Homo sapiens: one gene and its partner. Each later gene encodes a partner of the first gene's protein in a complex. Each region holds a gene or a part of one and is shown in the gene's direction. Other genes may lie near its edges. The genes, in order: TIMM23 and TIMM17A.

Region 1 (15,181 bases):
GCCATACTTGGTCACTCACTTCGTTATGTTTTATATTTACAATCAAAAGAAAAACCTATAAAGCTTATAAAACTCAAGAGCTTATTTTCAACAGTCTGTGGAAGAAAGTTCCAAACACATGTAAATCACCTTCTCAAAACAGAAATGAGTCATGGTTCACAGTATCATCTACACAGTAATTTTCAATGAAGTGAACTCACTATTGCATGCTGATTGCACTATCTCAGGAAACTCAAATCACAGAAATCATGGATGGGATTTAAGATTCCATATGGGGTAACGGCAAAATATAAGCTTTGTAATAGGACACACCTGGATTTAAATCCCAGCATTACCACTCAGAAGGTACATGATTCCAGTGAATTCTCTTACCCAAATCTCAGTTATCTCATTTAGTGAGTATAATACCATCTGTCTGCCTGTCACGGCATTAAACAAAGTGTTAAAAAAAAAAAAGTGTAATATACAATGGTCTAGAAGAATGTCTGGCTGAAGAAACAGTAGCTACTATCAACCTAGTATTTTCATGTTCTAGTAATTCCCATAAATACCAAAAGGAAACTCATGAAACTAAAAATCTGATTTCTAATATTTATTTTATTTCTTGTTTTCTGTTTCTAGCCTTTTTAGAGTTTAAACTTTGGAGCCTAGGTTTAAATTTAGCATAAGTAGTTAACAAGAAACAAAACCATTTCTTTGCTTTACTAGAAATCATAGCTTCGTTAAACTCCCTTACAAAACTATAAAGCATATTATGCTATTGGAGAGATACTCCTGACAGAAAATTACCTTCTGTCCTCTGCTTTGGGCAGTCTCATGAAATGATCTGTGATTTTAGAATCCTTTTTTCCATGTTGCTTAGAATTTCTGCATTCTACATTCAGGCTAGAAATATTTCCAGGTAGTTTAGCATTTAAATCATTCATTCCAGTGTGACTCTCTCCTCCTTCAAATTGGAAATGTAATCTAACTTCACCGCCCTTAGTAGAGTACCGTTTCCTGAATTCAATGTCAGCGTCTCTTGCTTGGAACCTTGAAGGTTTATTTGCTGTTTGGGAGGAACTACCATCTTCTTGTTCATCAAAACCTGGACTTGTCTCCTCATCTGCTTCTGAGTCTTGACAACTATTTTTAGAATTATCCACATCCATCGGTGATTCGGGTTCACTTTCCTTCTCAAATGGAGGAGAATTTCCTAGGCAACTTTCTTGTCTAATCAATTTGTTGTCATTTTTTGACCCAGTACCAACATCCTCAGAGCCAACATCTGACAATGGACTCTTTGGCACCACGTCTATCTCATCTTGCTGACAACTTGCACAGTCTTCCCCAGGATGGCAAGACTTGCTGCACTTCTGGTGGCTTTTGGCTTCTCTGGCGTGTTCATCTTCCGTAGTCTGCTTTGCATTTGCAAGCTTTACAGTTGTGAGAAACTGTTGATTGTCTCTATTCTCTTCACTATCTGTGTCACTGTGATCATCATTTTGAGGTGACCGATCAATGTTAGCATTACTAAACTGCTCTGGTACCAGGGTTACTGTTTGAGGTTCACTTTCCAAAAGCTGCTCCGTGTGTTTCCCTTCATTTTGCCACTTACACATTGCTGCAGTCTGATGCTGGTTCAAATACTGTGTACTTTTTTCAGTGAGTGACTTATCAAGACTTAGCTGAGAAACATTTTCTAATTTTTCTACATTATGTTGGTAAAAGTTATCTTCTTGTACAGAACTCATCATGGATTCTATTATTGTATTGTTGTTTTCTTTACTATCCAAACTACAAGAGAACAGAAGGAACTAAAAACAACTTATAATACAAACAAGTCACTTATCCAATCATACCTCCAGTGTCACAGCAGTAATTAAACTCCCTGTGGTCAGCTGAGCACACAGCATGTCTTCCATGACTCCATGTCTTTGTATGTGATCCCTAATGCCCTCCCTGCAGCTGTGTGTCTGGCAAACACCCGCCTTTCCTTCAAGTCATAAATGTCACTCACCTCTCTGTGCAGTCTTCCTTTAGGGACCAAAGGTAAAGTTGAACATTTGTTTCTTCTACACACTAACCACCACTGTGCCTTGCTCATACCTTTACTATTGCATCTATCACACCAGGCAGTAATTATGTGTTTTTGTGTCTGTGGCCACTGCTACACTGTAAGTATCTTAAAGACACAGACTGGCCGGGCGCAGTGGCTCACACCTGTAATCCCAGCACTTTGGGAGGTCGAGGCAGGCAGATCACGAGGTCAGGAGATCGAGACCATCCTGGCTAACCCGGTGAAACCCCATCTCTACTAAAAATACAAAAAATTAGCCAGGCGTGGTGGTGGGCGCCTGTAGTCCCAGCTACTTGGGAGGCTGAGGCAGGAGAATGGCGTGAACCCAGGAGGCAGAGCTTGCAGTTAGCCAAGATCACGCCACTACACTCCAGCCTGGGCAACAGAGTGAGACTCCATCTCAAAAAAAAAAAAAAAAAAGACACGGACTATTCCTCTCTCATCTCGGTATCTCAAGTATACAGGACAGTCCCTGGCACACAGGACTCTCTAAAAAATTACTTATAAGTTGATTTTGAATTAACATAGATAAAGGAGAACAGAAAAGCATGAACAAAGAGAGAAAATATTAAAGCAACAAGATAAAACATCCATGTATTATTATTCATTTCTCTACATAGGAATGTTTCTATACCTGTCTGATTCCGCTGTCTTGATTCCTTCAGTGTCCATCCAACTGGTAATAGTTTTTTGTTTGAAAACTATAAAAAAAATGTATATTCATACATTCCTTCCAATAGAAAACATATACAGCATATTGTACATGCAAGGAACTATGCTAGGTTCTACGGGTTAAACAAAAGATTAATAACTCAAGTATTTGCCCTCAAGTATATGGGTAAGACAGGAACATAAATGTTAATACATATGACACAGGGTAGAAAATGACTGGTGCCTAAAAGAGTTGGTATGGCCTAATGGATAAGAGCATAGGCTATGGAATCAGAACATCTGCATTCAAATCCTGATTCTCCCATTAGCTTCCTATGTTACTCTGTGAGGGGTCATTTCTCTGTATCTCAGATCCCTCATTTGTAAACATGCAAAATAACTATCTCTCATGAGATAAGGCTTAATTAAGTAAAAATAGTTCATGTAACGCATTTAGGGCATTATCTGGTTTACGCTTAGTAAATGTTGATTCTTAATTATCATGATTATTAAAAGAGGTCCTGATAAAGGAATTAAGGTTATTTCTGAGGAAGACACTACTTCAGTGAACAGGAGAACATGGGCATAATCGGTAAGATTTCTTCGGAAAAGGTAAGGCTTGACTTATGCCTTGAAAAGTAAACATGCAGTCACATAAAGAGAAAATTATAAGCAAAGGCACCAATATCAGGGAAATATAAAGAACTTAAAAAGAAAGCAAAAGAAAATAGGGTTGAAAAGTCAGCCAGGATCATACCATACAATAGGATCTTGAATGACCCACAAAGAGAAGCACAAAAAACGTGTTGAAAGACATGATTCCTCTCATCTAGGAGGCTCACAGTCATGCATGACAGCCTGGAGGATAAATTTGAGGGGCAAGAGGGAAGAGCGTATTGCCAGAAACTAGGGAGGAAGCTACTAGTCCAGGTCAGTGGTTCCCAAACTATCTGGATCATCAGGAAGCCAGCCACACCCCAGTCCTTCTGAATCAGAATCTATATGTGAGTAGGATGAAGGCATGAGGGGAGCTGGAATCTATTTTTTTTTTTTCCAAAAGTGATTCTGATGATCCACTAGATTGAACAGTTACTTGCCAAGAACATAAACTAGTCCTTGTGAGAGTAGTAAAAGTGAGGAGAGTCATTACAGACTTCACAATAATAGGGGAAGTTAAAAGTGACTTTAAGCTTTGAGCTTGAGAGACTTGAAAAGTGATGACAGCCTTAAGTAGAAATATGGAATACAAGAGAATTGTGTTTAGGGAAGAAATACGATTAGGTCAATTCTGCCTATACTAAATTTGAGATGCCAAAGAAGTAACTAGATAGAAAACCATATCACTACTTCTGGCTTCCTAAGGTTTCCTTCCCAACACACCAGCAGACAGTAGCAAAAGTAGAATTGATAGCTCAGGAGAGGGAGATTAAATATAAATAAATACAAGCCACATTTTATATAATCATTAGAAATAAGTATGCTGTCAAAATTTAACATACTGAATAGGGATTAAATGTACATCATATTTTAGTATCAGAAATAAAATCTTAAACATTCGCAAATGTTTAAGATTTGAGATACTCACTAAATTGCAATGTAAGAATCTTAGCATCCTAAGTCACAGGATCTTTCTTATTTACCTACCTCTCCTCAAACACCATATGGAGCAAAACAGATGCAGGCCAAATATACGAAAATCAATGGTTTATTTTTCATTGAAATAATGGCATAATCGAAATACATTTCAGATGGGGAGAATTTTATACCAGAAAAATATTCAATTGCTATATAATCTTTACCTTCCACAAAATACTTATAATCCAGCTAGTAAAAATCTTTGATTAATGTTTCAAAAATAGTTTCTATCACAAAAAAGTAATCACGCATAGTGATTTCTTATTGTTAAACACCATTACTTCCACGATTTTATTTAGCATTTCTGCAGCAGATCAGGCTTCAGAGAAAAAATGAGCTTCAGTCAGAGGGAGTAAGAGGATAAACCATTTGATTCTGAAATTTTTTCTACAGTTCTGTATTCTCTATTTATTTTCTTTATATCAAATACAGCAAGTATAGTTTAGAAAATCCTCAAATTGGGCCGGGCACAGTGGCTTACGCCTGTAATCCCAACACTTTGGGAGGCCGAGGCAGGCAGATCACAAGGTCAGGAGATTGGCTAACACGGTGAAACCCCGTCTCTACTAAAGATACAAAAAATTAGCCAGACGTGGTGGCGGGCGCCTGTAGTCCCAGCTACTCGGGAGGCTGAGGCAGGAGAATGGCGTGAACCCGGGAGGTGGAGCTTGCAGTGAGCGGAGATCGCGCCACTGCACTCCAGCCTGGGCGACAGTGTGAGACTCCGTCTCAAAAACTAAAAAAAAAATCCTCAAATTACAAACCAGTAATATGCCAAAACATTCATTTTTTGAGTTGGTTTAGAAGTTAAAACATCTTTTTTCCATAAATGTAAGGATTAATGTTAAGATGCAATGACTAGGTTCCTATAACACACACGAAGCATGTACTCCCGTGATAAGTCTAAAGAACCTAAAGACCGCACACATCATTTCATGAAAAACCAGGAGTGTTCCAGTGATGGCAAAGAAGAAGAGAGCTCTCTCCCGTAGCCCTGACCCTGAGAATGTGTTCTCTCTCCAGTTTCAGGCTTCCTGAAGCCTGGGGAAGGGATGAAGGAGGAAAAGCAAGAGGTAAGGAACCAGTATCTTCTGCTAATAAAACATTGATCAGTCCTTCTTAGGGCCTCAGAGAAAGGACTGCTTACTGCTCTTTGCAATATCACTTCGTTAAGCCTTTATTTCCTCACCCAGAAAATGAAGCTAACAACACCTACTTCTAAGGGTTATGTGGATCAATTACAAAGCAAAAATTAGAGAAAATATTGTGTTCAGCCTCACAAAGCACTCAATATGTTATCTCTCGACATTTCCACCCAGTCTTTTTTTTTTCCACTGAGATCAATAATTCTCCAACTTTGACTTCACACCATTTACATTTACTCTCATCAGCAACATTATTCAGTACCCAGTATATTTTAATCAGCAAGTCATTCAATTAATAGCTATAGATACAGCCAAAAGGCACAAAATGCAATAAAATTCACCTGCATGTCAAAGGAACATTCCACTTTCACAAAAAGTCTATAGCAACACATCTGGATAAACCTGCGTCATCACAATGTGAATAACATGCTGAGTTCTGCCAATATGCAGGTTTGCAGATTTTTTTTTTCTTTTTTCAGAAGTGGGGTCTCGCTATGTTGCTCAGGCTGGACGGGAACTCCCGGGCTCAAGTGATCCTCTTGCCTTAGCCTCCCAAGTAGCTGGGACTACAGGTGCATGCCCAGCAAAATTAGCGATTTCAGTCAATACAAGAAATATGTCCAGGAAGATAAAGAATATAAAATTTAAAGATACTGAATAAATATCCATTTCGCTACCCCGCCTACTTGTCCTAAGATAATTATATATAAAAATTTAAATACCAAGTTCCTAAAGGAATCCCAAAAATTCAAACAATGGGCTTTTGATACAAATATAGTCTTTGAACATTCTGTTAATTGGTGTCCTGTGCCAGGTATACAGAAAACATTTAAACATGCGAAATACAGCCCCAAGTATTCATTTGGTACCTCTTCTGCAGAAATCTTAATTAAGATCCAACCAGTGAGGACTGACTGCCCTCACCCCTATTTGCAACTAACTCCTCCTCCTTTACATGCAAATAAGGTTAATGAAACCACAAACTATCCAGTCACAGAAGCTGAAGTACACCTGAACATATACCTGAAGTTCACCTTCAGTTCCCTCTCCCCTATACCAAGTTCTCTGAAATCTACATCCTAAATTTTAAATCCATCCCTTCCTCATACTCTTTAAACACATCGCTTACTAGACAACTGCCATTTGTTTCTTGCAACTAGTCTCCCTGTCTACAGCCTTGACTATCCAGTGTTCTACAAACTACAAATGACCAGTCATTTTTCAATGAAATAACACAGACAATATAAGAATGCATCACACATAGAAAGATTAAGTATTATTTCATGAAACATTTATTTCAGTTATAAATATGGCTTATTTGCCAGGTTACATATATTTCTTACTCTGTGTACTGGATAAAATTTATGCTGTGGGTTGCAGTTAGGAAAGTCCAAAAGCCACTTTTCTAAAATATTAACCAAATGGTATTCCCACGCTTAAAAGCTTTTTAGTGGTTTCTCCATTAACCACAGAATAAGGTTGAAATTCCTTAAAATGGAATTTGAGTTTCTTCATAAGCTCCTGTCTGCCACCCAGCCTCATCAGACACTCCTCTGTCATCTTATGCTCCAGTCTTACCAACTTTTGCATGTCTTATTCCCTCTGCGTGTATAATTCTTTCTCCTCTTGATTTATACAGCAAATCTTCCTCATCCTTCAAGGCCTAGTGCAAGTCTACTTGGTACTGTCCCTAAGTTCGAAGACATCTAAGTGTACACTCTTCACCAGAGAACTGCCCGAGCTCTGCCCAGCCTCTTACACTGTTAATGAATGCATCCTTTTTGAAATGCTCTCCTTTGTCTGACACAACACGAGCCAGGCTTTCCTCCCACCTCTACAGCCGCTTCTCTTCAGTCTACTCTTAAACTTTGGTGTTCCTAAGGCTTCTGCCCTAGGTCACCTTTACTTTCTCTACATGTTTATGTTATCTATGCCCATAGCATCCATTATAATGTTTATGCCATGAACTCCCCAATCTACTTCTCCAGCACAGAAATATTTCTTCTCAAGTATCCCATTCTTTCATGAATCCATCCCCTTCCCTATTGCCAGCATCCAGGCCTAAGCTACAATTATTTCCAACCTAGATTAACTCCTTAACTGAGTCTTGATGCTCCACTTGAGTTCCTTTTCAATCCATTCTTTATTTTCCACACACCAGCCACACAGACTTTTCAACAAATAAATAAGTCTAATCAAGTCACTCCCCTACTAAAAACCCTTGAGTAGCTTATCAATGCCCTTAGAGTTCAAAATCCTTAGCAATGTCTACATATCCAATTTGATCTGACTTTTCTGTACCACCCTGCAGCCTCATCTCTCACACTCTCTTGCGTTCACTCTATATATCAATTGCACTCCTGTTTTTGTTTTGTTTTGTTTTGTTTTGTTTGAGGCGGAGTTTCGCTCTTGTTGCCCAGGCTGGAGTGCAATGGTGCCCTCTCGGCTCACTGCAACCTCCGCCTCCCGGATGCCAGTGATTCTCCTGCCTCACCTGCCTCAGCCTCCGGAGTAGCTGGGATTACAGTTGCCCGCCACCACGCTAGGCTAATTTTTTGTGTTTTTAGCAGAGACGGGGTTTCACCATATTGGTAAGGCTGGTCTTGAGCTCCTGACCTCAGGTGATCCACCCGCCCCGGCCTTCCAAAGCGCAGGGATTACAGGCAAAACCACCGCGCCCGGCCTCCATTGCACTCCTGAAACACTTCTTACTTCCTCTTCATCTAACTCCTACTCATTCTACAGTCCTCAGAATAAGCATCTCATCTTCTGGAGGACTATTTTCGATTCCATAAATTCAGTTAGGTAAAACAATCTGTCTTTCATCTATCAGAACATCCATTACCTTTTATTATATTAACTTTTGCTATCGTCTATCTCTCCAGATAGATTTTAAGGTATGAAGGCAGAGGCCAAGTTTCTCTCATTCAACACTGTATACCAGGGACGGGTACAATGCCAGCTTAGACTAATAGCTCTGCACCCTGGGACCCAGAATCTGCACAAGTGAAGTTGTTTTCTTCCTATCTAGAGGCTGAAGCGCCCTACTGTTTTACATACACAATTAGATCTCCTTGACGACTAAGGCAATTTCTCAATCAAACCTGAAGAAGCAAACAGGTGGTGGAGTCTCCTGCCATTTTCCGCCCTGTGAGTGACTGCTCATCAGAGTTTCTCACATCAATCGCACTGGGAAAAATGCGGCCCCATTCACCCACTAGTGGCTTTGGTAGCTCAGCAAGTGGACCTCAGAGTGATGATGCACACAAGACCAGAAAGGAGTGACTGGAGTCCCTGAGACCAGAAGGTTCGGGCCGAGGCGAAGGACAAAGATTTTTATTTTCCCACGTACCAAGCGAGGTGGCGCTGCCTCTGTGCTGTCCCGCCTGCCCTGGGACGCAGGCTGGCGAGGACGGTGGGACCCTGAACTGCACGTGAGCGTCCTTGGGGTCGAGGACGCGCCTCTGCCTGCTCGGAAAGCTCCGGGCGTCCGAAGCAGCCGGCGAAGTTGTAGCGGCGCCCCAGCGGGGTCGCTTGGTGCAGGGTTCACAGCCGGGGCCCGCATTCATGCTGGGACCAGCAGCGCACTGTCCCCGGGCCGGCCCCGGGCGGAGAGCCTCATTTCACTAACCTGAGAGAGATGGACTGCGCGTCCTTCTCAGCGCCTGCCTGCACCATTCCCTCTCTGCCGCTGCCTGCTTCTGCAATTGCTGATCCGCCGGCCTCCCAAGTCAGGCCGTAAACACTCGCCTGCTTTCTCTCTTCCACTGGCACCCCACCTGCCTCAATGCGCCGCTTTGATTCGGGATTCGTTCACTTTCCCACCACCGGAAAGCTGCCGTCAGGCGCTTCCAGCTTCCGGGGCGCACATTGCCGCAAAGCGGAAGTGTGGCGCTTAACGGGAACCGGCGCCCGGAAGGTCAGCGTGTGAAGTAGGCGCTGGCAACGCGGGGTTACCCGCTGTTATTGAGGAGTAACGGCCCAGCGGACCACCCAGGCTTGAGGCAGCGGCGGGAACCACTCGGTTTGCTGCGATACCATGGAAGGAGGCGGGGGAAGCGGCAACAAAACCACAGGGGGATTGGCCGGCTTTTTCGGAGCCGGCGGAGCAGGTTACTCGCACGCGGATTTGGCTGGCGTCCCGCGTAAGTATGGGGCCTAGCTTGCGATTATTTCTGACTGGTTTTTGCGTCTACACTAAGTTGCGCGTCCCATGTTTTATGTTGTTGTTTTTTTTTTCCTTGCTGGCATTTACAAGCTTAAGTACCAGTGGTGGGGTTAGTGTATCTGCATGGCTGCTCTTTCAAGATAGAAAGGCCTAAAAAAGGGCCACGGATCTCCTGGGGAAGCTGTCCGTGATTGACCTGGACTCGCGAGATGATGCATGTTTTCTTAGGTTTATATCCAAGCCTCCTACGTTTTGTGTGTGGTGGGCCGTGTGATTGACCCTTGATTAAGAGTAGAGCCGAGCTTTGGGAGTAAATGTATTCCAAATAGCAAGCCCGTAGTTAACTTTTTAGTACACAGCGACATATTCTGAGCCTCCAAGTAGCCGTCAGGGCAGAATATTCAGTAATATTGTTTGTAAGTGAGAAATAAATGACTTGGGACAGGCTAGGAAACCTTCTTTAGGAGCTAGGAAGTAAGCTGAACTTTAAAGGTGATATATAGACATGAAGAAAGAAGCCAGGTAAGAATTATAGAAACGGAAATAGGCAACATCAAGGTATACAGAGGCATAAATATCTTGCCTTTGCCTCTCCTCGGTCTTGTGAAAATGTTTTCCAGAACTTTGGTACTTTGTAACTGTGGTTGTTCAACTAGATAAATACAACTTGGACCTAAAGATAGGCAGTTGGTCGTGGATAAAGCCTTTACGAAAGTACTTTCTTTTTAGAGAATCCTTGTAATATTTCTCTAGGTATTTTATACTAAGGAACAACAACAACGAAATATGTTCAGACTGTAGTGCAAAAAAATATAAAAGACCTTTCATTTCCCTGGTGTCACCTTTGTCAAAAAACTGAATCTACAACACATGGTGTTTTGTTTCGTTTTTTTGTTTGTTTGTTTTTAGAGTCAGGACCTCGTTCTGTCACCCATATTGGGGTGCGGTGGCATGATTATAGTTCACTGAAGCCTCGCACTCCTGAGCTCAAACAATCCTCCCCTCTAAGCCTCCTAAGTAGCTGGGACTCTAGGTACGTACCACCACGCCTGGCTAATTTTTTTTTTTTTTTGACTTATTGTGGAGATGGGGTCTCCCTGTGTTGTCCAAGCTGGTCTCAAACTCTCGAACTCAGGCCATCCTCCTGTCTCGGCCTCCCAAAATGCTGGGATTCCTAGGCCTGAGCTACTACTTTACCTGTTTAGAACACAGTTTCATATTAATCTTAGTATCTCTGAGTTTCAGAGCACAAAGGGCATATACACTTCCTTAATGTGACAATATTGTTAAATTAATTTGATTAAGATTTGAAGGTAAATTGGGGGACCAGGGAATGAACACCATTTACTGAGCTTTTACAGTGTGCTAGCTACTTTTCTGGGGGCAGGACTATAGTGGTTTTTGTGGGGGTTTTTTTTGTTTTTTTTTGAAAAGAGGACTCTTGCGCTCACAGAGCTTACATAATACTGAGGTAAACCAACAAACATAAATTAAAACATTGCCGTTAGTGATAAGTGCTGTAAAGGGAATAAAGCAGAGTCTTGAGATTGTGATGGAAGCAGGATGCCATTTTAGAGCCGGTTAGGGAAAACATCTCAAGGGAGTTGACATTTGAGCTGTGACCCAAATACAGTACAAATGCTTGGGAGGCAAGTATCCAGGAAAATAGCTAGTGCAAATGTCCTGAAACAAAACAAATTTGGCAGGTTTAAGGAACAGCTCTTAGGCCAGTCTGTCTTCGTAGTTACAAGGGAGTTGGATCCATTGAAGTTTGTGAAATCAGAGAGGTAGGGAATGACAGCTAATGTAGGATTTTGTAAGTTATGGTAAGGAGTTTCGATTTTCTTAAGACAAATCACTGTAGTTGCTATGTAGACAGTGAATTGAAGGGGTAAGAGAAAGCAAGGAGTTAGGAAATTGTTGCTGTGAGATATGATGGTTGGACTAGGATGGTAGCAATAGAGAAGATAAGTAACACAATTCAAAATAGATATTAAAAATAGAACAAGCAGGACTCCTAATTGATGAAAAGATAGAGGCATGGGTGATGCATAGGTTTGTAAATAACTGCTGAGATACAGAAGGATCCAAAGATGATAGGTTTTACTGTTTTCAATGTTAGTGAATTCAGGTCTGGCCCTCTCAAAGTTTGTGTTTTCTTTTGCACAGACCCACATACCTGTGGTAATGACCCAAGGATTCTCAACCTTGCCACAGTAAATCAATCGTTAATAGTAATATGTGAAGGAACTGCCTTGAAATAGTTAGATACAACATGTACACAGTCAGAAAACCCAACCCAACCACTGTTTTTCCCATGGAATTGATTAGTCTTTTTTCAGTCTTATTTTGTAATTTACATAGTCACCAAGCATTCTTGGAGTAAAGTGAAAGAAATTAGCTTTGTAAATGGCCTGGACTACACTTCCTGTAAGTTCAAAAATCAGATCTATGACACTGCAATTATCTTATTGGTGTAAAAGCCTGAGCCACCAGTGGAAGACCTGGTTTGGGATTGAGGGTCTCAGGATGAGTCAGCCCCCAAACTGACAGATAGGGAGGATAAAATGGGAAAAAATTTTCCGCCTTCAGTGAGCCTATAAAAATTGCAAACACATGTAACAGTCAGGAGCTGGATTAACTCTAACTGGATTAACTTAAAGAATTTTGTTGCAATGTGACATTTTGTTTTCTCTCTAGTAACTGGTATGAACCCTCTGTCTCCTTATTTAAATGTGGATCCACGATACCTCGTGCAGGTAAGATTAAGATTTTACTAGTTTGGTGCATTATTTTACCATTTTAAAAAAAACGCCAAGTGCTATGCTGACTTGAACTATGACATACACTTTTGGAGGCAGTAAGTCTCTGGTCTCCATTCACCCTTTTTTCCTCACAAACACCAGGAGCTTGGCCTGCATCTCTCTGAAACCAGTTAACTCCCTTCAAAAGCTTATTTTTTAAAACCAGAGCAGAATTAATTTTTGAAAGCACCCCAATAAAAGTATTGGGATGCCTAGTTACAAAGTGTGTGGGGTTTTTTGTTTGTTTGTTTGTTTGTTTTTGAGCCAGAGTTTTGCTTTTGTCCTCCAGGCTGGAGTGCAGTAGCGCGATCTCTGCTCACTGCAACCTCAGCCTCCCAAATTCAGGCCATCCTCCTGCCTCAGCCTCCCAAGTAGCTGGGACTACAGGCGCCCACCACCACGCCTGGCTAATTCTTGTGTTTTCAATAGAGACGGGGTTTCACCATGTTGGCCAGGCTCCCAAAGTGCTGGGATTACAGGCAAAGTGTGTTTTAAAGCTCAGTTTACAATATCAGGGTTTTTTTGACTAAGCATCAAAAGTTTCAAAGAGTATCTTTTTGAATCCAAGATATATTAGGAAATATATCTTGGGTATATTAGAAAAGCAAGGTTGATTTAACATCTGAAAATTAATGTATTGTGCCATATCAATTTATAATAAAGCAATCAAGGAAAGAATATAGTACAAAGACCACATGCTTATCTCAATAGATTCACAAAAATCATTTGACAACATCCAACACCCCCTTTAATGATTATAAAAACAAACTAGGCTGGGCGCAGTGATTCACACCTGTAATCCCAGCACTCTGGGAAGCTGAGGTGGGCAGATCACTTGAGGCCAGGAGTTTGAGACCAGCCTGGCCAACATAGCAAAACGCTGTTTCTACTAAAAATACAAAAATTAGCCAGGCGTGGTGGTGCCTACCTGTAATCCCAGCTGCTTGAGAGGCTGAGGCACGAGAATCGCTTGAACCCTGGAGACAAAGGTTGCAGTGAGCTGAGAACACCCCACTACACTCCAGCCTGGGCAACAGAGTAAGACCCTATCTCTAAATAAATAAATAAAACTAGACATAAAAGGGACTTCAGCCTGTTAAATGCCATCTACAGAATATCCAAAGCTAACATAATTTAATGGTGAAAGACTGAATGCCTTCTCCCTAAGATCAGGAACAAAATAAGTATATTTACTCTCATTTATATTCAGCATTGTCTGGCCAGGGCAATTAGTCAAGTACGTTAAATGGCATTCAAGTTGAGAAAGAAGTTAAACTATCTGTTTACAAATGACATGATCTTATCTATAGAAAATCACAAGGGAAATCACAAAAATCTGTTAAAACTAATGATCGAGTTCAGCAAGTTGCAGAATACAAGTTCAATATACATAAATCAAATATATTTCTAGACAGTTGCAATGAACACTACAAAAATGAAATTACAAAAAACAGTTGATTACCAATAACATCAAAAAGCAAATACTTAGAAATAAATGGACCAGGTGCAAAACATATTCTGAAAACTATAAAACATTATTGAAATTAAGTGGAAAGACACATGCTATGATCCTGAAAATTTTAATATTAAAATGGCAGTGCTCACCAAATTAACCAACAGATTTAGTGCAGTGCCTGTCAAAATCCCAGCTGGCTTTTTTGCAGAAATTGACAAGCTTTTATCCTAAAATTCATATGGAAATTCAGGGGACATAGAATGGCCAATGACCTTGAGAAAATAGATTGGAGGACTTGAACTTGCCAATTTCAAAACTTTCTACAGAGCCACATCATGATAGTAACATAAGAATAAATCCATAGTTAATGAAATACAGAGTCCAGAAGAAAGACCTTACAATATATGCAGTCACTTGCTTTTCAGCAAGGATGCCAAGATAGTTAAGTCAGGGGAGACGTTAGGACAACTGGAATCCATATGCATAAGAATGAAGTTGAACCCTAACCCTGCACCATATGCAAAATGTTACCACCAAATGGATTAAAGACTTAAATGTAAACTAAAGCAGTCAAACTCTTAGAAGAAATCATGGGCACAAGTAGTTGTGACTTTGGATTAGACTGTGATTTCTTGGATGTGACACCAAAAGCACAAGTGGTAAAAAGAAAGTTGATAAATTGTATTTAATCAGAATTTAAAAATTTTGTGGTTTAGACAATACCAACAAGAATGGAGGCCAGGTGCAGTGGCTCATACCTGTAATCCCAGCACTTTGGGAGGCTGAGGTGGGTAGATCACCTGAGGTCAGGAGTTCGAGACCAGCCTGGCCAACATGGTGAAACCCCATCTCTACTAAAAAACAAAAATTAGCCAGGCGTGGTGCTGGGCGCCTGTAATCCCAGCTACTTGGGAGGCTGAGGCAGGAGAATCACTTGAACCTGGGAGGCAGAGGTTGCGGTGAGCCAAGATCGCGCCACCCGCACTTCAGCCTGGGCAACAGAGTAAGACTCGGTCTCAAAAAAAAAATAAAAAAATAAATAAAGAATGGAAAAAGTCCTGGCGCAGTGGCTCGTGCCTATACTCCCAACACTTTTAAGAGGCTGAGGCGGGAGGATCACTTGAGCCCAGGAGTTTGAGACCTGCCTGGCCAACATAAGAAGATCCCATCTCTCCAAAAAAATACAAAAATTAGCCGGGTGTGGTGGTGTGCACCTGTAGTCCCAGCTACTAGGGAGGCTGAGGTGGGAGGATCACTTGAGTC
Region 2 (15,519 bases), on another chromosome or scaffold:
GATATCACTAAAGATACAAAATCAGGCCAGGTGCAGTGGCTCATGTCTGTAATCCCAGCACTTTGGGAGGCCAAGGCAAGAGGATTGCTTGAGTCCAGGAGTTCAAGAACAGGCTGGGCAACATAATGAGACCCCCATCTCTCCAAAAAAAAAAAAAAAACAAAATTAGCCTGATGTGGTGGTGAGCATCTGTTGTCCCAGCTACTCAGGGGGTTGAGGTGGGAGGATTGCTTGAGACCAGAAGGTTGAGGCTGCAGTGAGCTGTGATCACGCTACTGTACTCCAGCCTGGGCAACAGAGTAAGACCCCATCTCAAAAAAGAAAGAAAGAAAGAAAGAAAGAAAGAAAGAAAGAGCGAGCAAGCACAGGGGCTATGGGAAAACACAACAAGAGGAGGCTGAATAGAAGTATGATTTAACAGTGAAGAGCTTGGGCCTTTGAGGCCAATAGACCTGTATTTGGTCCTGGTATTGCTACTTACAGGCCATGTGACTTGGGCAAGCTACCTTCTTTTCTGAGACTTGAGTTCATCATCTGTAAAATAAGGACAACAGTTATACCAACCTTATACAATTGTTGTGAATATTAAATTAGGTCCTACACATGACAACATTTCATTGATATACCCAGTACATGGTAAACACCATATTTATTATTAATTATTATAATTATTTATTTATTTATTTATTGGGAAACTCTGTTTCACTCTTATTGCCCAGGCTGGAGTGCAATGGCGCGATCTCGGCTCACTGCAACCTCCGCCTCCCGGGTTCAAGCAATTCTCCTGTCTCACCCTCCCAAGTAGCTGGGATTACAGGCATGAGCCACCATGCCCGGCTAATTTTGTATTTTTAGTAGACATGGGGTTTCTCCATGTTGGTCAGGCTGGTCTTGAACTCCTGACCTCAGGTGATCCACCTGCCTCGGTCTCCCAAAGTGCTGGGATTACAGGCGTGAGCCACAGCGCCTGGCTATAATTATTTATTTACTCTTGTCCTGGGTTCTTTTCTTCCCATCCCACCTTTTCTCTCATCTTTTTATTTCTTTCTCTCAAGAGTAAACACCCTCTAAACACACACACACACACACACACACACACACACACTTTCTCACCTGGTTCTCATTCATTCATTCAAACATTTATTCAGATACTACTATTTATATATAGCATCCTGCCAGGCACTACAACATTGTCATTACAACATTGTTATTCTCTTAAACATGTATAATTCAATGGGGTAAAAAATAATAATAACTACACTGTAAGGCAAAGTGAAGCAAGCTAGAGAGGTACAAGGAGTCTTGCAGAGAGGTCCAACTGTTAAAAAACCCAGTGGAAGACACATTAATTTTGTGGGGAGGAGTCAGGGTGGTCATCTCAGAGGGCATAACAAAGGGTTTCAGCCATGCTGGAGTGGGCTTTTAGTTAGGTATGTTGGGTGGACATGGCACTCCCTATGCCCATCCCCTCCCCCTGTACCCCCTTTGGGTCAGCTGGCCTTCACCCTCAGTGTTGCCCAGAAAAAAGCATCATCTTCTGGGGTCCCTGGCTCTAGGACCTCAGCCAACCTCTAGCCTCCCAGTCAGCTGAAAGCAATTCTCTTTCTAGTTTCCAAGGACTCTTTCTCAGGCTTTTTGCCAAAAATATTCACTGCTCCCTGAGGAGCAGTCAGGGCCTAAAAGCAAATCACTACCTTCAGCCCCAGGGTTAGCCCTGTACCATCTGGTTTCAGTGGTTTTCTTTTTTGGGCCCAGTGGTCTCTGCTCCAGGAAGACACTCAAAAAAATAAATCCATAGCTTTCAAATGTAAAGGGCAGGACTCATGCCTCCTAACCAAAGGTTTCTACACATTAACCCCAGTATCTTCTCTGTGTCAGGTCTCCCAATTCCAAATCGCTGGTTCTTCTGACATGACTCAGTCAGAAGCTTTTTACTCCCTGGAGCCCCAAGAGCTCCCTGACACTGCTCACAGACTCCAAAAGTCTTCCCTTGAAAGGCATCACAGCTGGAGCTGGAGGATTTGGGAACCCAGAGGCCAGGGAGTACAGCCACCTCCAGCCCCTACAATGAGAGGCCACTGCCCGACCCACTCTGTAGGGAGCACTGGTTGTTCCAGCTCAGAATCAACTTCCACCTGAAACAAATCCATCCTGGGTATCAGGACCCTGGCCGTTGTCTATTCCCCAGAGAAAAACAAGCACTGTTGTCGCTAGAGGGATGGGGAGAGAAAAGAAGGAAAAGAGACTCAAAGCTCCAATCAAAATGTGGTGCAGGGCAGGAGGGAAGAATGAGGATCCAGAACCAATTTAATTAATGCTTAGGTGGCTCTCAGTTGGGCTGAATGACCCCAGGAAAGTCACATTTTCAGGAATATAGGGTGGCAGTATAGTATAGCAGATAAGACTACAGGCTCTGGAGTCAAATGACATGGGCTCAAATCTGAGATGTGTGACCTTAAGTAAGTTATTTAACCTCTCTGAGCCTTAGGCAATGGAAAATGAGGATATTAAGAGCATCTACGAGCTGGGTGCAGTGATGTGTGCCTGTAGTCCCAACTACTTGGGGTGCTGAGGCGGGAGGGTTGCTTAAGCCCAGGAGTTTGAGTCCAGCCTAGGGAAAATGTGAGACTCGTCTCTAAAACAAAACAAAACAAAACAAAACAAAACAAAACAACAACAAAAAACCAGACCGGGCATGATGGCTTATGCTTGTAATCCCCACATTTTGGGAGGCCGAGGAGGTGGGATGAATGTTTGAGGCCAGGAGTCAAGATGATCCCAGGCAACAGAGTGAGACCCCATCTCTTAAAAAAAAAACCTTGTCCAGGCACAGTGGCTCACATCTGTAATCCCAACACTTTGGGAGGCCAAGGTGGGCTGATCACTTGAGGCCAGGATTTTGAAACCAGCCTGGCCGACATTGCAAAACCCCACAAAAACTAGCCGGGTGTGGTGGCACACACCTGTAATTCCAGCTACTTGGGAGGCCGAGGCACAAGAATCACCTGAAGCTGGGAGGCAAAGGTTGCAGTGAACCAAGATCATCCCACTGCACTCCAGCTTGTGACACAGTGAGACTGTCTCAAAAAATAATAACGAAAATAAAATAATCTAAAATTTAAAAAAACCCTAATTCATAGTTATGGAATTATTGAGCATATTAAATAAGATAATGCATGCAAAGTACTTAACAGCATCGGACATATTTTAAGCACTCACTGATGCTTGCTATATAGTTAAATTATATAGCTATATGTATGTGTATATACATGCAAAGATCAGGAGATATGCTGACATAGAATGACTATGGCAGGGTCCTGAAAGAGACCACAAAAGAGAGAAGTTTTCACACTGGTTCTTTCCTTTTGGGGGATGCTGACAGTTCCCCTAGAAGGCAGCAGACTTTGCCTCTGGGAGCAAGCCACTGGCCTGGCCCAGCACTCCTGAGATGAGCAGAAATGGGCAGAGGAGAGCTCAAGACAGAGCACAGGCCAGACTAATGTCTTCCTGAGAGGAGAGCAGTGGGAGGAAAAAGGGGGCAGCAAAGAGACAAGAGATTGCCTCCTTCACCTCCACCAATGTTACCTAAGCTAAAACCCCTCTGTCTACCAAATCAGCCCTGGTCACAAACTAAAACCCAAACCCAACAGGAGGCTTACTTATCCACGCCAATCTGAATTTCTCCATGACATGGACCAGGTGGGACTGTGGGTTTGGTGCCATGTACATGACCTGTGACTTAGTGGATGGAGTTCCTTAGGCCACAGCAGCCTCTGGCTCAATGAAGCTTGATCTACTGAGTACCTGGACCACATGGGGCTCTAGCAGCAGTCCTATCTTGAGCCCAGAACAGTAACTTTCAATAGAATATACACTGGTATGTTGAATCAGAAGTTCAAACGCCCTTCACCTTTATGGTGACTTTTCTCTCAAGGACCTCCACTGCTTTCTTCTACTATGCCTTCGTATCATTGACCATTCCATCAGTGAGGGCCACCACAGTCCCTCAGAATTCTTTAAGACTAACTAGGGGGAGATTAGAGTACCAATCCTTCTAAACCTTTCAAAAGGCTTCTTTTGAACCCTTTTCAAAAGATTTCTTCACTTAGCACCCTGGAACCAAATGGAAGTGAATATTTTTGAGAAGACGTGACATCTTTCTCCTGGGCCTTGCCCAGCCAAAAATGTTCTGTTATCTGTTGCAATTAAAAGAGAGCAAAGAGTAAGAAGTCTCTTTCCTTAAAGTTTCTTTGGCCACTTGAGCGGAGCTTCCCAGAGCAGTAAACTCCTTTAGGATAGGGACTGTTGGAATTAAATGAGCTGGGGAACCACAACCTAGAAACTGGACTTCAGCTTTGTAAACTCCGAAACTCATTATCACTGTGATGGTTAATTTGATGTGTCAACTTGAGTAGGCCATAGGGTGCCCAGATTAAATGTTGTTCTGGGTGTGTCCATGAGGATGTTTCCAGATGAGAATAGCATTTGAATTGGTAGACTCGGCAAAGTAGATTGCCCTCCTCAGTGTGGCTGGGCATTGAAAAGGCCGAAGAAAGAATTTGCCCCTCTTTTCCTGCCTCACTATTGAGCTGGGATATCTCATTTCACCTTCTCCTGCCCTCAAACTGGGATTTACATCATCAGCACCCCTGGCTCTCAGGCCTTTGGACTTGGACCAAACTGCATCACTGACTTTCCTCCATCTCCAGCTTGCAGACACAGATTATTGGACTTCTCAACCTCCATAATCATGTGAGCCAACTACTCATAATAAATAAATAAATAGGCTGGGTGTGGTGGCTCATGCCTGTAATCCCAGCACTTTGGGAGGCCCAGGTGGGCAGATCACGAGGTCAGGAGTTTGAGACCAGCCTGGCCAATATGGTGAAACCCCCATCTCTACTAAAAATACAAAAATTAGCCAGGTGTGGTGGCGCACACCTGTAGTCCCAGCTACTCGGGAGGCTGAGGCAGAAGAATCACTTGAACCTGGGAGGCAGAGGTTGCAGTGAGCCGAGATCACGTCACTGCACTCCAGCCTGGGCAACAGAGTGAGACTCCATCTCAAAAATAAATAAATAAATATTAATTTTATGTATATATATATATATATATATAGAGAGAGAGAGAGAGAGAGAGAAACAGAAACAGAAGGATATATATATATTTGCACACAATAAGATATATATATGTGTGTGTATATATATATCCTCTTGGTTCTGTTTCTCTGGAGAACCCTGACTATTCCTGGTGATTTAGTCAAAATAACTGATCTCACAAGAGGCAGATACATAAGCCAGTATTAACTACCAAGTGGAGAAGAATAGTTATAAACACAGGCCAGGGTATTCTCTTCTATATCGAAATCTATTCAGAAGCCAAATAAGAAGAAGAAGATTGCATAATAAATATGGAATAAGAACAAAGGGAGGTAGCTAGAGCTAGAGCTAAGGGATATTTTATCTGGGTCCTGGTGAGAGTGCAAATCTCTAGTTACTAAAATATTTATACCCACCAGGTCTTCGGTGCTGACTAAATGTCAGATTCCTGCCCTCTGAATTCCTCCATGTCCCCTCTCCCACATTCTCTCTTTGGCCTGTACAATTAAATAGAGTTAACTATTCTTAATTACAGTCACATTCTGAACACGTCTTCTCCACCTTACACACCCAAATCAGATAACTAGTATGAACCATTCTCACGTGCAAGACACATTTATTGATAATCTTTAGTTCCATGGAGGGTTCGATTCATCTGCTTACTTTATTTCCAAGCTTTTGGAGAGACCCTCACTCCTCTTTGCAGTCTTCCTTTATTTATTTATTTATTTGAGGTGGAGTCTCGCTCTGTCACCCAGGCACAATCTTAGCTCACTGCAACTTCCACCTCCCACGTTCAAGCCATTCTCCTGCCTCAGCCTCCTGACTAGCTGGGATTACAGGCAACACGCCAGGCTAAATTTTGTATTTTTAGTAGAGACGGGGTTTCACCATGTTGGTCAGGCTGGTCTCGAACTCCTGACCTCGTGATCCGCCCGCCTCGGCCTCCCAAAGTGCTGGGATTACAGGCGTGTGCCACTGCGCCCGGCCTCTTCCATTATTTATGACATTGACTTTTCCGTAAAATAAATATATACATATTTTTAAAGTTAATTACAAACGTACAGAATGGAGAGGAGCACTTTAACAGCCATCACATGATTGGGATTTTGTTGACAGTAAACTAAAAGCTCCATGGGTCCCAACCTTTTTTTTTTTTTTTTTTTGACAGTGTCTCACTCTGTCACTAGAGTGCAGTGGCATGATCACAGCTCCCTGCGGGGTAGATCTCCTGGGCTCAAGCTATCTTCCCGCCTCAGTCTCCCGAACAGTCAGGGCTACAGGCACGTGTCACCACGCCCGGCCTGGTCCCCATAAGTCCCCTCTTCTCCGAGCCAAACATCTTCACACCTTCTGGTGATCATTAGTGGAGAGGCCTGTGAGAGGCTCTGGTGTCAATGTCCCTGAAATCGAGGGCTCCAAATTGGTCATGGCTCTCCAGATGGCCCAAACAGTTCCAGTTCACAAACATTTATTGAGCATCTACTACATTCCAGGCACTGTGGTTATTATAAATCACTGAGACACTGTTTGCCCTAAAGGAGCTACGTGTATTTGGTAACAGCTTCACAGTAAGTGACGAATAAGATAGCATTAATCCACATTTGACAGCAAAAGTACCAAAAAAGAAAGAAAGAAAAAGAAGAGAGAGAAAGGAAAGAAAAGAAAAGAAGAGAAAGAAAGAGGCCGGGTGCGGCGGCTCACGCCTGTAATTCTAGCACTCTGGGAGGCCGAGGTGGGCGGATCACGAGGTCAGGAGTTCGAGTCCAGCCTGATCAACATGGCGAAACCCCGTCTCTACTAAAAAAACATAAAAATTAGCCGGACCTGGTGGCGCCCGCCTGTAGTCCCAGCTACTCAGGAGGCTAAGGCAGGAGAATCGCTTGAACTCGGGAGGCGGAGGTTGCAGTGAGCCGAGATCTCGCCGCTGCACTCCAGCCTGGGCGACAGAGCCAGACTCTGTCTCAAAAAAAAAAAGAAGAAGAAAAGAAAAAGAAAGAAAGAAAAAGGATGGAAGGAGAGAAGAAAAGGAAAGGGGGAAGGGAAGGGGGAAGGGAAGGCGGAAGGGAAGGGAAAGAAAGAAGCGTATTTAGGCAGTATCGCGTTGATTTCAGTCCACGGAACCTCTGGTGACCGGGTAGTGTGACTCCGTCATTGGTAGCCCCCCGCCCACACAGCCGGGACTCGCGGCCTTTGAGGACGTGGGCAGGGCCAGTCTCGCCACGCCGCGGCCAATGCCCCGACCACACGCTGGCCACAGGAGTCCTGGCTCCCATTGGCTGCAGCGGGAAATGGTGAACCAATGCTCATAGACCTTAACGCCCTCCTCTCGGGATCACTTCCGCCTCTGGGGTCAGGCTCCGCCCAGCTTGCCCGGCATCACTCGCGGCATTGGAGTCAAGATGGAGGAGTACGCGCGAGAGCCTTGGTGAGCTTCACCGCTGTCTTTGCATTTCTCTTGCCCCCCTGCCCACTGCCCTCCTTCTCCCTTGTCCAGGCTCCCAAGGTGCAAGCCAGACTCAACCGCAGCCTCGTCGACTTGGGCCTGGTAACTGGGCAATGCGGTCTTTCGCGGCCAGTCGGCTTCTTAGCCCTGTACTTAGTACCTCCCCGGCCGCGTGAGCCTCCCTCTCCCAACCCAGCACCCGTGTGACCTTGTGATGGATGGTAAGGAGGTCCAGACTTGAGTTTGATAGAACCTCGGAACCTCCTCCCAACGCAGGGCGTAATCGACTTTATGCGGGGCCAGTTATAATCCCCCCTGTTCGTCGAGGTGACCTTGGGCGCGTCCCTCCGTCTCGCCTTGCTCAGTTCCTGCGTTGAGGAACTGAAGAATAGGCATTTGAGGGAGTGTCATTCTTGAGGTTTTACTTGTATCATGATATGTGTCCACAGAGTGAAGCATTTTAAATGAATGGAACATAGATTTTAGCCAAGGGGTCTGGATAAGCTTCTTTATTGCGTGGGGCCTTGTTTTCCTTCTTGGAATTCTTTCTTGAGGGTAGAGGGGGACAAAAATTACCTGGGAAATAGGAAGAGGTAATAGCATGTGTTCTCTGAAAAGCCATGGACAGAAATTCATTGTTACATCCAGCGTTTATTGAGTATGAATAAACCAGACACATAGATAATTATAAAACGATGTAATTGCTGTCAGAAGTCTCAGGTTGCCAGAGTTTAAAGTTTCTAGGGTCATAGGTAAAAAATCAAATCTTGATATTTCGGTTAATCATTTGTTTTATTGTGTAAGAGCAACAACCAAGATGTCCTCAATTTGTGAAAGTGCCCAGGACCTTAAATTACTACTCTGGTATCCTAGCCTTGTTGCATGTTTTATGTTCCCCTCTCCCATAAATGGCATACAAAATATAAGTTTTAGGGTCTCCTGGCTCTTCAAACTTATCTTCTTCAAAGCAGTTATCCTCCATTCTGGATTGTGCTCAGATATGTAGGACTCAGCACACTGTAAATAGCTGTTTGATGTACTATAATGACACAGGTTAGCAGAGAGTTAAAATATTTAACTATGTTGAGTTAAAGATCTTAGAAAAATAAGGCCGGGTGTGGTGGCTCACGCCTGTAATCCCAGCACTTTGGAAGGCCGAGGCGGATCACGAGGTCAGGAGTTCAAGACCAGCCTGGCCAGTATGGTGAAACCCCGTCTCTACTAAAAATACAAATATTAGCCGGGCGTGGTGGCACGCGCCTGTAGTCCCAGCTACTTGGGAGGCTGAGGCAGGAGAATCACTTGAACCCAGGAGACGGAGGTTGCAGTGAGCCAAGATTGCGCCATTGCACTCCAGCCTGGGTGACAGAGTGAGACTCCATCTCAAAAAAAAAAAAAAAAACAACTTAGAAAAATAATGGGTTTTCATTTACTAAATCATTAGGTAGCCCCTTTGCTTTCTCTTAGTACGTATGCCCTGAAACAATATAATCAGTTACCTGGTTATCTTTGTAGTCAAAACTGCTTTGATTTTTTGACTGCCCTGTTTGATTACAGCATTTCCTCAAGTCATTTTATAGGCCAAATATTTATTGGTTGCAGTGGGCCCTGCAGTATAATCTGTTCCATTATAATCCTTACTGTATTGGCAAAGAAGATTTTATGGTTTGTGAATGAGAAATATGGTCTTTTTTTTCCCCCTGTTCTTAGCCCATGGCGAATTGTGGATGACTGTGGTGGGGCCTTTACGATGGGTACCATTGGTGGTGGTATCTTTCAAGCAATCAAAGGTTTTCGCAATTCTCCAGTGGTAAGTGGGTGAATGGTCTTATTTTATCATCACTTGCAACTTGGGTTTGATGATATTACTGGTGGTCCCATCAGTGGCTTAGAAATGTACTTCTAATATATTTTTTGTTGCTTCCTTTTTTTTGTTATAGGGAGTAAACCACAGACTACGAGGGAGTTTGACAGCTATTAAAACCAGGGCTCCACAGTTAGGAGGTAAGCAGAATTTTCATTTTAACTGAACTATTTTTTTCTGTTCCTTTGAAGATGGAGCTATTTTTATTTTTAGATTACAACAATTAGTGATTTTAGTTTGGTCTAACGGTTTGTCACAAACATATATCCCTATAGTTTCTTCTTGATTTGTAGTTTGTTTGAAAAATTAACCTGAATTATGATACCCATTTGAAAATCTTGTCTCTGTCCTTCAGACACTCGGTGATTTTTTTTTTTTTTCCTTCTCCAGAAGAAAGACAGTTATTTAAAGCTCAGGTGTGAGGCCGGGCACGGGGCTCACGCCTGTAATCCCAGCACTTTGGGAGGCCGAGGTGGGCAGATCACCTGAGGTCAGGAGTTTGAGACCAGCCTGACCAACATGGAGAAACCCCATCTCTACTAAAAATACAAAATTAGCTGGGCGTGGTGGCGCATGCCTGTAATCCCAGCTACTCAGGAGACTGAGGCAGGAGAATCACTTGAACCCGGGAGGCGGAGGTTGCAGTGAGCCAAGATCATGCCATTGCACTCCATCCTGGGCAACAAGAGCGAAACTCCGTCTCAAAAAAAAAAACCTCAGGTTCGTGAGTCAGGACCGATAGCTTCTGAGGTAACATAAAGCTGAAGAGAATGTGATCTGAAGGATTGGGGTTTCATGCAGGAGAAACCCATCAAGCCGATTGGGCTCTTCTCCAAGGTTGGTTTTGGGACATTGTGCAGAGGTCATTGGAAAATTTGAAAAGATTCTATTCATTGTACTTTGTAAACTTGGTTATTCAGAAGCTGGGAAAAGGGAGGTGACAAAAAATGTTTGTAGGTTATATTCACTTACAAAGGTATAGTCAGGGTTGGGCGCAATGGCTCACGCCAATAATCCCAGCAGTTTGGGAGGCTGAGTTAGGCAGATAGCTTGAGCTCAGGAGTTCGAGACCAGCCTGGGCAGCATGGCTGCCCATTTCCCCAGAAAAATGGAAAAATTAGCCAGGTGTTGGGGCATGTGCCTGTGGTCCCAGCTACTAGGGAGGCTGACATGGACGGATCACTTGAACCCATGAGGTTGAGGCTGCAGTGAGATTGCACCACTGCACTCCAGCCTGGGTGACAGAGACCCTGTCTCAAACAGCAACAAAAACAAACAACACAAGGGTATAGTTAGATTGGAGAGACCGTATATAAGACATGAAAAAATCTTAATACTTCAGTCGTTCCTTAGATGTTTTGGGTATCAAAATAATCTTCTCTTTGCTTTTCTTAACTCTCACAGTAATGAAGAAGTTAGTACTATTATTATCTCCCATTTTCCAGATGAGGAAATTTAGTTCCTGAGGGTTGAGGTAATGTTGTATCTTTTTCCTTTGTTCCCTGTGTAAGAATTATCTACCCTGGAAAGTAATTAGTAACTAATTTCTCTTTGTTTTTGTGTTGGTGGTTATTGTGTTATTCAAGAATGATGAGTGGTATTAAAAAGTTCACACCAAACCCAGAACCTCTAGTATATGCAGAAGCCATATAGGTTTTTGCTTGTTTTTTGAGAGGCTGCTTCTATCACCTTACGCATTTTCAGTGAGTTAAAATACCATCAGATAACTGTCACTGCCAAAAGAAGCCTGTGAAGACATAGCAACTAAATTATTAGCTGGGCCCGGTGGTGCATGCCTGTAGTCCCAGCTACTCAGGAGGCTGACGCAGGAGAATCGCTTGAACCCAGGAGGTGGAGTTTGCAGTGAGCCGAGATTGCACCACTGTACTCCAGGCGGGGTGACAGAGCAAGACTCTGTCTCTAAAAAATAAAATAAAAGGGCTGGGCACAGTGGCTCACGCCTGTAATCCCAACACTTTGGGAGGCTAAGGCGGGTGGATCACGAGGTCAGGAGTTTGAGACCAGCCTGGCCAACGTGGTGAAACCCCATGTCTACTAAAAATACAAAAATTAGCTGGGCATGGTGGCACGTGCCTGTAATCCCAGCTACTCAGGAGGCTGAGGCAGGAGAATCGCTTGAACCCAGGAGGTGGAGGTTGCAGTGAGCCAAGATTGTGCCATTGGACTCCAGCTTGGGTGATAGAGTGAGACGCTGTCTCAAAAAATAAATAAATAAATAAAATTAAAAACTAAATGTAGGCCGGGCGCGGTGGCTCACGACTGTAATCCCAGCACTTTCGGAGGCCGAGGCAGGTGGATCACAAGGTGAGGAGAGCGAGACTACCCTGGCTAACACGGTGAAACCCCATCTCTACTAAAAATACTAAAAATACAAAAAAAAACAACAACAAAAAAAATTAGCCGGGCATGGTGACGGGCGCCTGTAGTCCCGGCTCCTTGGGAGGCTGAGGCACAAGAATGGCTGAACCCGGGAGGCGGAACTTGGCAGTGAGCCCAGATCACACCACTGTACTCCAGCCAGGGTGACAGCGAGACTCTGTCTCAAAATAAATAAATAAATAAATAAAAATAAATGTAATGTGGTACTGTGGAACAGAAAAAGGACATTAGCAAACTAAGGAAATCTGAATTAAGTATGGACTTCAGTTAATAGTAATGTGTCGGCCGGGCACAGTGGCTCACACCTGTAATCCCAGCACTTCGGGAGGCTGAGGCAGTAGATTACCTAAGGTCGAGAGTTCGAAACCATCCTGGCCAACATGGTGAAACCCCCGTCTCTACTAAAAATACACCAATTAGCCGGGTGTGGTGGCAGGCACCTGTAATCCTAGCTACTCGGGAGACTGAGGGAGAAGAATCGCTTGAGCCCGGGAGGCAGAGTTTGTAGTGAGCCGAGATTGTGCCATTGCACTCTAGCCTGGGCAACAGAGCAAGACTCTGTCTCAAAAAAAAAAAATAGTAATGTGTCAATATTGGGTCATTAGTTGTGACAGATGCTCCATGCTAATGTAGATGTTGGTAATAGGGAAAAACTGGAAGAGTTTATTTTTTCTTACAAAGCACGGTGAAATAGAGGAAGAGTGAGTGGTGATATGAGTGAATTGGAATTATCCATTTCAAATCCTAGAGGTTAGCCTTTTTTAGGAAGCTATTGAGAAGTTTTTATGGTATTTTAAATTCTAAAAATACTAGGATGATGATTTTATTAATTTGGTGAGCATTTGCTAAGGTATTCAGATCAAGGTGCAGGGAGGGACAGGCAGTATGGGAAAATCATAGTTGTGTTCTGAAAGGTGTTATATTTTCTTTCTTTTTTTTTTTGAGATAGGGTCACCCAGGCTGGAGTGTGGTGGCACAGTCTTGGCTCACTGCAACCTCCGCCTCCCAGGTTCAAGTGATGCTCCCACCTCAGCCTCCTGAGTAGCTGGGATTATAGGCATGCGCCACCACAGCCGGGATAATTTTTGTATTTTTAGTAAAGACGAGGTTTCACCATATTGGTCAGGCAGGTCTTGAACTCCCTACCTCAGGTGATCCGCCTACCTCAGCCTCCCAAAGTGCTGAGATTACAGGCATGAGCCACCACGCCCGGACTTAGGTCTTATATTTTCTTTTTTTTTTTTTTTTGAAACGGAATTTCGCTCTTGTTGCCCAGGCTAGAGTGCAATGGCGCGGTCTCGGCTCACGTCAACTTCCATCTGTCCGGTTCAAGCGATTGTCCATCCTCAGCCTCCCAAGTAGCTGGGATTACAGGCGCATGCCGCCACTTCTGGCTAAGTTTTTTGTATTTTAGTGGAGATGGGGTTTCACCATGTTGCCCAGGCTGGTCTCGAACTCTTGAGCTCAGGCAGTCCACCCGTCTTGGCCTCCCAAAGTGCTAGGATCACAGGCGTGAGCCATCCGGCCCAGCCCAGGTCTTATATTTTCATAGAGAAAATAAGATAGGATTTTGACATGTCCCTGTTACTCTTTGACCACTTTCTTGCATTTTGGAAGAAGACGTTTCAGGCTCATCTTGTACTTTTCATGCCCTAGCTGTGGGCAGGGCAGCTTTTCCTGTTGTAGCCATTTCTCCAAAGAGCCCCAGTTCCTTTTAGTTGAGAATGGTATTTAGGGCCAGAAGTGGTAGCTCACACCTGTAATCCCAGCACTTTGGGAGGCCAAGGCAGGAGAATGGCTTGAGCCCAGGAGTTCAACACCCTTGACAACTTAGAGAGAATGCCTCTCTACAAAAAAATTTTTTAAAAGAAAAATCAAGAATGGTATACAATCTATATTTCTGTATATCTATACATACTGAAAATCACAAGTTTATATTGATATCTCGTATTTCCAGTTCATCCCACAGGATTCATTATTTTCTTCCTTTTCATATGTATACCTGCCTTCTTAACCTGCTTGGGCTATGGTACCCCACAACAGGCTGCCCTTTGTCAGAGTATACTCTGACACTCCATGCCAGGCTGCCTTCCTTGAGAATCTCTCTCTTGCTTAGGCTCTAAAACCTTGTTCTCGGGTGTCCAGGTGTATAGACGTTCGCCTCATCTGGCTCTGGATCCTCACACCAGGCTACCCTTTATGGATCTCCTCCTCATCCTGCTTAGACTCAAATTCTCCATTCTCATTAGTAGCCAACACTTATTCTGGCAATGATTCTCAGGGGAAGGGTCTCCTGAGATTTTAGGCTCATGAGGAAATGGGAGGGTCTTGTCAGAAAATTTTAGTGAGGTAATTCTAATATACCTAGACGTCATAGCTCTCTCCCAGGGCATAGAATTACTGAGTTAGAAGAAATAACTGGTTTGTTTTTACATAGGATGTGATGTCTAATATTGTACTAAAAATGAGGATGCTTATGCTATACTCCACTGGTACTATCCACTGGATTTATTTATTTTTTTTATTTTTTGAGACGGAGTCTCGCTCTGTCGCCCAGGCTGGAGCACAGTGGTGCAAACTTGGCTCACTGCAAGCTCTGCCTCCTGGGTTCACACCATTCTCCTGCCTCGGCCTCCAGAGTAGCTGGGACTACAGGTGCCCGCCATCACACCTGGCTAATTTTTTTTGTATTTTTTAGTAGAGACGGGGGTTTCACCGTGTTGGCCAGGATGCCCTCGATCTTCTGACCTCATGATCCACCCGCCTCGGCCTCCCAAAATGCTGGGATTGTAGGCGTGAGCTACCGCACCTGGCTGTTTTTGTATTTAGATAGAGTTTAAGTGCAAAGTAATCTGCTGATTTAAGGTTGTTTTAAATTCATATCTGAGGAATAAAGGATGGACAGGCAATTTCCATCCCTTTGATGTTCCATAGTTCTAGCTATTTATATCATTCATTTGCCCCTTCAGCATGGATTGGCTTACACCTGTAATACGTTCCAGAATAGCTGGATTTCTTTTGTTTTCCCATCGGTGATTTTCATAGAGTAGATGCTCAATGACATATAATGCAGAAAGGCCAAAAATAGAGGTAAGTAAAGCTATGAAAGAAAAGAAGAACGAAAGAGGAAGCAGAGTAGTTTGATTTTGTTTATTGCTGCTTAAACCAGAGAGATATGTTATTCTGGAAGGGTGATTTGCTTGTTTTTACACATATGCAGCCTGACTGTTTTAGGCTTGGCTTCTTTTTTGTTTGTTTGAGATGGAGTGTCGCTCTTGTTGCCCAGGCTGGAGTGCAGTGGCACGATCTCGGCTCACTGCAACCTCCGCCTCCTGGGTTCAAGCGATTCTCCTGCCTCAGCCTCCCCAGTAGCTGGGATTACAGGTGCTCGCCACCACACCCGGCTAATTTTTACATTTTTAGTAGAGGCGGAGTTTCGCCATGTTAGCCAGGCTGGTCTTGAACTCCTGGCCTCAGGTGATCCACCCACTTCAGCCTCCCAAAGTGCTGGGATTACAGGTGTGAGCTATGGCACCCGGCTGGCTTATTTCTTATAGGCTTTGGGCCGTTGCTAATTTTCCAGCTGATATAATACAATCCAGCTTTATTCGAAAGATAAGTATTCTAACTCTTGTTCGGTGTTTATTCAAACTTGTGTTTGCATGTATTTGTTTGGACTATAAATTTTGAGACTATAGTGAGTATGTTTT

Evidence for each region.
Region 2: TIMM23 (region 1) and TIMM17A share a complex: the UniProt entries of both Homo sapiens proteins name them as parts of the TIM23 complex.

What each region holds. Positions count from the first base shown.
Region 1 is NC_000010.11:45,963,096-45,978,276, forward strand, and holds the start of TIMM23 (mitochondrial import inner membrane translocase subunit Tim23), read left to right. Parts: upstream 1-9,393; 5' UTR 9,394-9,529; coding exon 9,530-9,635; intron 9,636-12,358; coding exon 12,359-12,417; intron 12,418-15,181. UniProt on the Homo sapiens protein: Essential component of the TIM23 complex, a complex that mediates the translocation of transit peptide-containing proteins across the mitochondrial inner membrane.
Region 2 is NC_000001.11:201,948,026-201,963,544, forward strand, and holds the start of TIMM17A (mitochondrial import inner membrane translocase subunit Tim17-A), read left to right. Parts: upstream 1-7,477; 5' UTR 7,478-7,501; coding exon 7,502-7,527; intron 7,528-9,255; coding exon 9,256-9,355; intron 9,356-9,485; coding exon 9,486-9,549; intron 9,550-15,519. UniProt on the Homo sapiens protein: Essential component of the TIM23 complex, a complex that mediates the translocation of transit peptide-containing proteins across the mitochondrial inner membrane.